Regions from separate parts of the Homo sapiens genome. Here region 1 is linked to region 2. The links come from fine-mapping of genetic effects on gene expression. A gene starts in region 2. The other region holds a variant in brackets. All regions are shown on one strand. Distances are from middle to middle.

Region 1 (5,381 bases), 330 kb before region 2:
TTCTTTGTAATACTGTTATAATTTTACTTTAATATAACAAAACTAAGTCCAGTCTCAAGTTGTTAGGGATAGTCTTTACCAATTTAATAAGGCTGCCTTCTATTCTTAGATTCTAATACTAAAATGTTTTGAAAGCATTCATGGCAATTGACTTTGTCATGCCCTTCCCCTACCCTCAAATCCTCATTTGCAGTATAAGCAGAAATCTTCACTGAGAAATCTTTAAGCAAGACTCCCCTTCTCTCTAGGAAAGACAACACAGTCATAAAAGCTTCTCAAACTATTCTCAACTTGCAAGTTGTTAAATGTATCTACTATTTTGAGACTTTTCTCAAGTCCTTCCTATAAAGCCATAGCTGTGTTGAATCCAGCATATCTATATACTCAAGTATATAAAGGACATCTAAGAACAAACTAAATGACATTTACAATGTTTTCACAATTATGATCATACTCTAGAATTCATTTTGACTGCTAAAATATCCAGTGTAATATTTTACAGATTCTTTCTTAAGTGACAGTAAAGAAAAATAAGCTGATAGCTTTTGGCTCAAACCAGTAGACAAAGGAATATCATTATCAACTTAGAAGATTATTCCAAAAAAGAATAAAAGACTAAGATAGATCTCTATATCCTCTGTAGCTATAGCTGCTATTTTCCTAATAAGTCTGGAAAGCTTTTTCTCTTTCTCCACACCCATCCCCCACACCAACTTTAAAAAAATTATTTGGCATGAGCCACTTACAGACTTTATTGTTTTTTAATTCTTCCTTCTATGTTTATATAAAAATTGGTATTGTACCAAACTCTGAACTCTTATACAGGAAGGGAATATTTAAATTAAAACTTTTGACAATTTCTCATTCTGCAAATGCTGATGATGGCTTGCTAAATTAGGTCCCAAAATAACTGATTTTGGCTGATCCACAAATTAAAGGCTATCCCAATATCGAATACCATTTTTTCTGCCACATTTTATTTTTTGATGGGTATTTCTAACTGAAGTCAGTGGAAGGATTTATTGCTCAGCTCTGTTCAATTAAATAAACACTGAGTTCTTACTATGTGAGGATACACAAAGATTAAAGAACATGAATGGCTCACATCTCTCAAGAGCTCAGTTCCTCTTCAATAGGGCTTAGTTTATGTCTTTTATTAATAGCACTCTTAGCTCTGATAATATCACTTCTTCCTATTGCTCTTCTTTCCCTAGAGTATGCAATGGTTTCCTGATTTAGTTAATTTCTGGGTATATTCACAATCATCTGCTTGGCTTCTCCCTATCATATGTATATCTAATTCCCTATGTTATGTTCCCTCCACTGGAAAGACGTGGGAATGTTTGTTTTTCTGGACAGACTGACTGATAAAGGTGTGAACATTGGCACGTGTAACAAGGGGAGGTCCACAGATACGAAATCTTCTGTTTCTAAGAGAAGTGCATTGGTAAATAAATGCTGAACTTAAACTTCAAAATGGTCTGTAAAATAGTTTTCAGGCTCCCAAATTGCACAAGCAAAAAAGTGGTCATACTCCTTTATCCAATTTCGCCATGAATGAATAGATAAGGAAGCAGCTCCCAAGGTGCAGAGCCCAGAGGGCCATGGAGAATAAAGGACAAGGGAGTTCTTTTCAGAACACACAATACAGCTCTAATCAAGAGATCTGGGACACTTCCTTGGCAGGGTGTCTTCACAGTGCCTGCCAGATAGGATTTCATTATTGTAATTGGACAATTACTGCCATGCGTTTCCCATTTTTCCTTTTTCCACGTGGCAAACTTACCCATAGCTCTCCTGTCCCTGTTCCGTTACTGTATATTGGATTTATCCTGAGGCAGAATGGGGAGGGAAGATGTCGTAGGCAGTTACCATGAACTTTAGTTCACAGGTTTCCAGCCTGCAAAGGGCCACTGCTAGCTGTGACACAGATATTGGACTGGATATAAAAATGAAATAGGACTTTGGGCTGTTTCTCTTGAGATAAGGTGAATGTGTTCTAGGTTTAGGAAGAA[A/G]GGCAACAAAACAACTTGGTGGCCACAAGGGTGAACTATGGCACACCGGCTGGCTATTTGCCACGATTCATGCTTTCACCAGTATAGAACTGTTGCTAGTAAACAGCTAATTAGCCAACAACCAGGTTTTCTAGCTCCTCCTGCTTCTAAGTAGGGACATATGAAAGTTCTTGTTAAAGGTGACATGTGTCACCTTGGGAAAAGGTGATCAAGATACAGGTTTGATGTCTTTACCCCACTTTATTCCACTGCCAGCCAAGTTCAGAGAACACCAATACCTAGGAAACGAAAGAAATCAGAGCCCTAAATCACCATGTGGAAGAAAGTCACACTTCTATCAGGAATACCTGTGGTAAACTCTTACAAACCTGATATTATTTTGAATTATTGAAATGTAACGACTTTCTTGTTATAGCATTTAGCAGTATCCTAACTAGTATATCAACAAGGTATTTTGTTTCAAAATCTTTCAAAAGTAAATAATGAAGAATTGTTTTTTTTTATTAGAAGCAGTTCCACTTCAATAGGACTCAGTTCATGTTTAGAGATTGTGTCTGATGTTGACAGTCATAATAATTAAAATATTTAACAGATATAAAAGCTTACTAAGGATCCTTCTGTATCCTAAATTCGCATTTAAATTAAACTATAGCTCTGTACAAATAACTTTTAATATTATTTAGCAAACTATTTTGTTCTTTACCATTCGTTTCTCTTAACCTTTCCGTATGCATTTCTGCTTCTTCTCATTTATTTTTGTCACCAACACTTTAAATGTCTTGTCAGCATGGCACAAAAATGATTTCTTGTCTTAAACATAAAGCTAATGTATCTTCTTCATAATAAAATGTCAGTGTCACTTGTCATCTTTGCTAAGGTGTAATGGAAACCACAAAATGGATTTTTAGGATTTGTTAAAAATTCCATCAAATTTAATATACAGGAGGAAAAACTAAGACTTAAAAAAATGAAATATAAAATACACATTTACACACAGAAATGTTTAGAGTGATATGGGGTTCAGAAGTAGCTTTCTCTTAAAATATATAAGCTGTCACTTCTACATTGTTTCTTTTCTACTGAGATACCTGATTGAGGCCAAACTACATACATTTGTGCATAAACTCTGTGATCTGTGAAATCAAGACTATTTAAATTGCTAAACTCTGTTTCAACAAGCACCTGAAAAACTAAAACAAAAAACAAAACAGCACTGGGTGCTGGGGGAGACAAGCTAGAAAAACAGAGGGGCTAGACAGACAATTCACTACCTTCTCCCATATATGTCTCTTAGCTTAGAGAAAGGAAAAAAGACCCTGGGACCACAATAATTGCACCATATCTTATGGCAAAACAGCAGACACACAGTTGGTACAATTCTAGCTCAAAGATGAGTGCATTCAGCAATTCTTGAAAAAATCATGACAGCTTTCATAGAGGAATTACAGTTTCACTTGGAAGTCTAAAAGAACACCTAAGATTTATAAGGCTGACATGGGGTAGGGGATGAAAAATAAAGATATGGGGGCTGTTGAAACCAAACACTGTAACAGCGGCACCCTAGAAAAAAACACATGATTCCAATGCTGACATTTGTAACATTACTCTAGGTTCTCAAGCTCTTCCCCAAGCTTGGCTGTTCAACTTTTTCTCTGTTCCCTGGACTTAGCCTCAGTCCGTTTCCACCGCTCTCCACGAAAAGAACTTCAATCAGTACAAACACTCATTACATTTTCTGCCATGTCAATTCTCTTTATGTTCTTAAAAGATAAGAAGAGAGGGCCAGGTGCGGTGGCTCATGCCTGTAATCCCAGCACTTTTGGGAAGCCGAGGCAGGTGGATCACGAGGCCAGGAGTTTGAGACCAGCCTGACCAACATAGTGAAACCTCGTCTCTACTAAAAATACAAAAAATTAGTCAGGCATGGTGGCGGGTGCCTGTAATCCCAGCTACTTGGGAGGCTGAGACAGGAGAATAGCTTGAACCCAGGAGGCAGAGGTTGCAGTGAGCCGAGACTGTGCCATTGCACTCCAGCCTGGGTGACAGTGCGAGACTCCACCTCAAAAAAAAAAAAAAAAAAAAAAGGAAAAGAAAAAGAGAGAAGATAACCCGAGAACCCTCTGGGCACCACCTTTCTAGAGTTAGGAAAAGGGACAAGACTCTATAACTGAGACCAGTCACCAAGGAGGCAGAAGAAAGCTGAAGTTTGTGATGTACCAAATTTAAGGGGGAGAGTTTTTTAGGTAGTAGGAAGGGGGCATCAGGGTCACATGGGGATCAAGAGGCTGCACATTGTTGGGTCTGAAAGGCTATTGCCTGGTTAAAAAAGAGAGAGGTGACTGGAGACCTGAGCAGGAAAAAGTTTAGTTGCGGCCAGATAGCAATGGTGTGAGGGACATATCATGTTTGAGGAATAGAATAAGACTTCATTTAAGGTTTAAGTTGGCAAAATCAGGTAAGTTGGGCAAAATCATTTTGGCTAGAAGGTTACTGTGTGTAAAGGCAGGGAGGATGACAATACAGACAGGTAGGTTGAAGGAGATACAAGAAGGTAGGTTGAAGGAGATACCAGAAGGTTAAGCTTATGGATAAAACCAGTAATTATGGAAGATTAGGGATAGACTGTAAGAAATGTGTTTTGCTAAGCGTGTGTTATCCTATATAGGTAACATTTAGTAAAACAATGTTTACAAACCAGAGAATGAAAATCAAATTTTCATACTCAAGTAAAGAATAATTCCCCTCTCTCTAGCTACATACATCTCAGAGATGAGTCATGTGACTCAATGATCAGGTTTCTCATATCCAACTAAGTGATGAACTAGCCTCAAACAGAGGAAGAAGGAACTAAAAACACAATTAGCAGAAATCATGGTTCAATTTTTGATTAAAAATCACTTCTGCTTACAAACAGGTGTCCTTGAGACAAAGGATATTTTAGGCAAATGGCTGAGGGAACATCTTTCCAGATAAGTAGAGCCTATCTCTACAAGAAACCTTGACTTTTTGGGTTTAGTTGATGTTTCTTTTTCTCTTTCAATTGACAGAGATTTTATACTTTAGCAAAGATTCATAAAGACAGTCTCTAGCAAATCTTTCAAATACCTTCTTGAGAGTGTAGAACCTTGAGGTAGCATATATTATGAAAGGACTACCTGAAGTTTTTTTCACTTCAGTATTTATTTAGCAGATGTTAATAACCACATATATTAATATTTGCCCCAATATCAGAACCCTTATAGTATGTGAAGATGGATCAGATGATTTGTCTAAGGGAAATCTATATTATTCCTTAGTAACAGTTTCTCGTGTTTTAATACACTTGAGGTTGCTAAATCTAAATTATTTCTTATTTGATTTAATATC
Region 2 (5,381 bases):
TCCTGGGTAAAGATCTTATCTTTGTGATTAATTTTCTTCATAAAATGAGGACCCTTTCAGATCTCAATTTCTGGGTCTCTAAATTCTTGAAGTTGAGAGAAGTGAGTAAGCAGCAATATTCATTTCAATGACAACAATTTCAGCTATTAAATCTTTTTACTGGATGCCTGACTACTTGAAGATACAGAATAAAATAAACAACGGATTAGTGATTTTGCAATTACCTTGTTACTTCTTTTAGATAATCTAACTGTATAATGCAAGACTTCAAGTAAGTTTTGGCATTACTTATTAGCTTGTGCATCAAATTCACATAAACATAGTTAAATTCCCATTTCATTTTGCCCTAAGAGGAAACCAGACTGCCAAAAGTTGCTCCAGCTCCCTTTAGTAAGCAGCACATTTTTTAAAAGGTGGGGGAGGGTTGAGTAAAGTAAATACTTAGGCTATTTGGCATCCATCTTAATAAAAAATAAAAGTAATTCACAAAAGTTAACCTGTGCTCAATGCTCTAAGCATTTAGAATGTGGAAATTCCTAAGGATTCTATTTTTTTTCATAGAATATATGTTGTATTTTGCTTTTTTTGTAGTTTGAAATTATCTTTGGTAATGCCTGGATAAGGTTATAACAATAGTCTCCCCAGTAGTATTGTGAATGCACCTGCTTGCCAATTCAAATAATTTTGAACAAATATTTAAACAGAAGGAGTCAGAGAAAAATGCACTATTTGAACAGCTAAGGGAGGGTCCACTTCATTAACAAAATGCAACAAGTATTCACAGTATAAATCAACTCATAGTAAATTTGCAAAAGCATCTTCAAGGATAATATTCCAAGGAGAAAATAGTCTCTTAATTTTACCAAACATTATTTTTACACTTTAATCATTAAAAATAGGCTTAAATGCAATATGAATGGTAAAACTAGAGACTGGATGATATGAACTCATACCACAACATATACAAAAAATAGTTTTAACAATGACTATTGAAGCTGACAGTCGCTTGACTAGAATTGAGAAGAGGCCACGGGTGACTGCCTCAGAACAGACTCAATTAGAGCAGCTGATTAGGAAGTATGGGATTCATACAGGAGTGGAGCAGCAGGCTCATAAAAACACCGCGGGGCATTCAAAACTTACCTGAGTAATGGTGGTTTTAACTGTGCCAATTTGTTTGGGATTGGGAAATGCTATTATGACCTATTTCTCTTCTCCAACATGAGGAGTCTCCCTACCATTCTGTGACTGAATACCTAGGGTTAGGTTACCTGAAGGATCTGTTATTAATCTCCAGCTGTAAGGAAATATTCCATAAGGATTCCCAGAGAATAAATGATTCCAAAATAGTTGCTCAGTTTGTGTGTGTTTTAAAAAGTTGGGTAAGACCACTTAAAATTTTTTTCTAAGAGGATAGATCTTAAGCATACAATAGTGTTAACTATAGGTGTGTACTTATCCCCATGATACTTATACACCTATGAAACCACCAATAGTTAGGGTGGAGTGGTATGCACAGCTTTTTACATGTCAATTATACCTCAAAAAATAAAGGTTATCTAAATGGGGGTAGGAGAATGTAGGGAGACTGAATTTACTCTGAACTACAGTTATAGTTGAAGTCAACTCAAAACCTCTCCAAATTTCTAAAAATGCCTCACACACTGAAGTTAATATTTCAGAAAACTAATAAATGTCTGTGCATGTAGGTATGCCTTGAGCAGACTACAATCTCTCTGGATCTCTAGGTCTTGTCACAAACTGAGGGAACTGTTACCGATTTCTACAGAACCTTCCAGGTTCAGCATTCTATTAAAAAGATTTCCTAGAGTTTGTATTGTAAACATTTAACCACTTAGGACAATTTGAGTCATTACTCGTGTCTGGTACAGAACATCAGGCCCCTGGGGTCTTGTTTTGAAACTCAAGTTGGCCAGCCTTTCACCTGAAACAAACTTCTTACCTTTTGGGGGAGAATAAGCATTTTGTTCCCCAAAAAAGCATTTGGAAAGCATTTGTTATGAAGTGATCATGCACCAATCCTTTATCTTTCATCAGTAATAGTATATTTCATTAATCAGGCCTGCCCAGACCAGAAATTACTTACCCACAAACACTTTACAAAGCTGCATGCCTTCTCGGTGTTTGGATTTGATGTCCTGGTTGTATGACAATATAGGAAACGTATTAATTTAACTTTTTTATTCACTGAGGAAAATTTCTACCCCTCTTAAGTGAAGACTTCACTCTAGCTAAGAGAAGTACTCGGGCTCCACCTGTTTCGCCTAGCTACAACACTCATTCAGACCCTCGGCAAACCCAGCTCTAGCAATATCACGCCAGGCTAGGTGGACAGGAATGCACCAGTGCTGTTGGAAATTAAAGTTGATGGGAGTTGCATTCTAATCCGGCCAGAGCTGCGCCTGCCGGGTGCAACCGCGGCGCGGCCGGCGCTGTCGGTCTCTGTCTCACGGATGGTGAGCTGACAGCTCCTGCCAGCCCAGGCGGGGAGGAGGAGAAGAGGTGTCCGCTGCAGCCGCATACCCGGCGGGTGAAAGCACCGTCTTGTCCCCAAAGATTCCTCTGCCCTCAGAGACTAACAAAAATACGGTGTCCTGCGTTTCGCAGAAGGACGGGAGGCGTCCCAGAGCTCTCCCGGGAGAAAAACCCAGGGAGAAGTGGTGGTAGGAGGCGCCCGGTCCCGCAACTCACCTTCTGCTGCCTCCGGGCCATGTCGGTGGGCTGCTTGGCGTTGAAGGGGTACGCGATGCACCTCACGACGAAGACGTAGAGCTGCAGGCGGATCCTCCGCTCCTGCTCATCGTCCAGCTGCCGCTGGGGCTCGTCTCGCCCCTCGCTGAGCACAGAGGGGCTCGGGCTCACAGATCTGGCCGCGCCGCCGCCGCCCGCGCGCCCCGGCGCGTCCCGCCGCCCTTCCCGAGTCGGGGCTGGAGGAGCTCGCTGCGAGCTGCCGGCTGCCACCAGCACATCGCGGCTTTCCTCTTCCAGCCCCTCGTCCGACTCCTCTTCGCTGGAAGACGGGTCCAGCATGGTGCTCGGGGATCCCCGCCGCTCGGCCCGCGGTCCCCAAGCGCCTCACCCCCGGCGGCTGCGCCCGCGGGTCTGAGGGAGCCGCGGGGCTGGCTGCAGCGGCCGCAGAACGAAAGGAAAACTGGCCAGGGCTTTCCGGACACGTCGAGTTAGATTCAGGAGTGTTTCCTACCACCAGGGCGAAAGGGGCGGGCAGGAGCCGGGAGGAGGATTGGGAGGGGGGAGAGGGGGAGCCGCCGGGACTGAATAGGCGGAGTTAGCGTTGGGGGTGAGCTTGGGCGCCTCAGGAATTGCTCCGCCAGCCCCGGGCGCGCCGACCCAGCGGTTCCCCAGAGCCCGCCGGCAGAGGCGGAGCCGCCCGAGCGCCCGGACGCAGGTGGGGAACCTGTGGCGCCTACAACAAGCAACACGTGGAATTGAATGTTGAAGAGCCGCGCGGGGCCGCGGAGTGCGCGTGCGCGCGCCGCCGCTGCTGCCCGGGCCCGCCTGGAGCCCTAGCACACAGTTTGCAAAGGCGGGGAGCGGCCGAGCGCGATGGCCCGTGTAAGCGTCCACCGGGGCTGCTCCGACTACCCTCACCCTACCACCTGTGATCTTTTCTCCAGCAGGTGGAGGTGGAATGGGGAGCGGGGAGGGACTGTTCCCTAGCAAGAGGTTAGGGGGAGCGGCCGAGACATCTCCCCAACCCGAATCGGCTGCCTAGGATTGAACCCCAGCGCGGAAAAGCGGGACTGGAGCCCTTCACCACGAAGTATCTTTGCGACAAGACTTTGAAAAGTCTCACTCTGCTCTGCTGCCGTTTTGATACTCATGCTGAAGCCCAAATTATAAAAGTCGGAGTAATGAAAAAAAAAAGAAAACCAACGAGGCTTACTTTTTAAACTGTTCTAGTCCTGCAGACTCAAGGCAAGAGAGATTTTATATGTGCAAAATGATACTGATTCAGCTCAAACATATCTCGATTATTTTCTGGGTTGGGATGCAGTTGACTCAAAACAGGTTGTGTAGTGTGGACATTTATTCAACAAAGATTTGAGCGCCCTCCCGGTGTCCAGCACTGTTAGCCTTTTGCGGAGCCCGCGGTGACTAAGGCACATGACACTCAGTCGCTGGTGGTTCTGGCCTCAAGTCGGCGTCTTGTAGCTGCGCTGAAGCCTGCCTTATCTGCGCAGATTTCTCAGTCCTAGTGCTGGAACCACCTAGGAGTTTCTTATAGTAATTCTGTATCTTATGTCCTAAGTCCTGACAGAGGGGGAAATAGGCAAAACAATGCATTCAACACCAGGTGGAGTGTGCAGCGACCAGGTGGGCAGGGAGGTGATGAAGTTCAGTGGAAATAACACAGGGCAAATTAACTACCAGCTCTGAGCTCCTCTACCACCATGGTCAAACAGCAGTTTTAGCTTTTTCAGGCCACTTTCATATAGTTAGGTACACAAGAGAGACTTCTGCACTTACTGACATTCTCTCTAGATGGGTAAAAGACAAGGAGGCATTTACTCCTGAGGAGTCTTACCTATTTTTCTGCCTAATCCATAACAGGCCCCCTAGTAATAAAAGGTCTTCAGTAAGAGCATGGCTGTGGGATGATCACAAACTGCCAAGAAATAGAAAATCTCAAACACCTATGTATTTAAAGGCAATGTTTTATTTTTGGCAAGGCAAACAAATAGCAATCTTGTCATAATAGCTGATGCTTATCTAGCACTTTGCAAAGATCTGTGAAATTGTTTAATACCCTCATCAAAGTAATAGCTTTCTGAGGCAGGTAGTATTATTATTGATTGCCCTTTGAACCAGATACTGCACTAAGCTCTTTACATACATTATCTCATTTATTTTAGGTTCCATTGTTCAAATAAGGAACCTGAGAGTTGAAGAATCCTTTCCTTAGGGTACAGAACTAGCACCTAATGGAATAAGGACTCAAAACAGTTTTCTAGTTCCAAATAGTGTCATTTTCTACTGCAATTTGCCTTGATAATAAGACAGTATAATAAATGTATGAGGTTTACTAAACTAATAAAAATTTCTAGGGACATAAATGTATGATTTAAATATAGCAACTTTACTGCCCTTTTCTTGCCAACAATAGGTATATTTTTCAGTTCCTTTTATTAATCAATATTACTTGATGTGATCACTTATTCTTTTCCCATTAAAGGTGGTTATTAAGTCAAAGATCTCCAAGCCTTGAGGATCCCACAGGAAAACATCTAATAATTTTTAGAGCAGAATATACAGTGTTTTCTCCATGAAGATGAAGATGACTTAAGAGGCATAAATTAAAGAAATATCTAAAAGACAACAAAGAGAATGTTTAAGCATCA

Evidence for each region.
Region 1: its variant is fine-mapped to the expression of CADPS2 in lung (TOPMed, PIP above 0.99).

What each region holds. Positions count from the first base shown.
Region 1 is chr7:122,555,694-122,561,074 of GRCh38, forward strand. All of the region lies in intron 7 of CADPS2 (calcium dependent secretion activator 2), which reads right to left. The region is part of intron 3 of LOC105375481 (a long non-coding RNA gene); the gene reads left to right. Among named protein-coding and RNA genes, the nearest start is that of RNF133, 140 kb to the right of the region's middle. The variant A/G (reference allele first, on the strand shown) is at 2,016.
Region 2 is chr7:122,883,287-122,888,667 of GRCh38, forward strand. It overlaps CADPS2 (calcium dependent secretion activator 2), which reads right to left and starts at 3,174. Exons shown (of 30, transcript NM_017954.11): 1 at 2,713-3,174. The coding sequence starts at 3,051. RefSeq lists an enhancer at 2,462-2,511 and silencers at 2,872-3,001, 3,042-3,091, 3,102-3,181, 3,252-3,411, 3,422-3,581.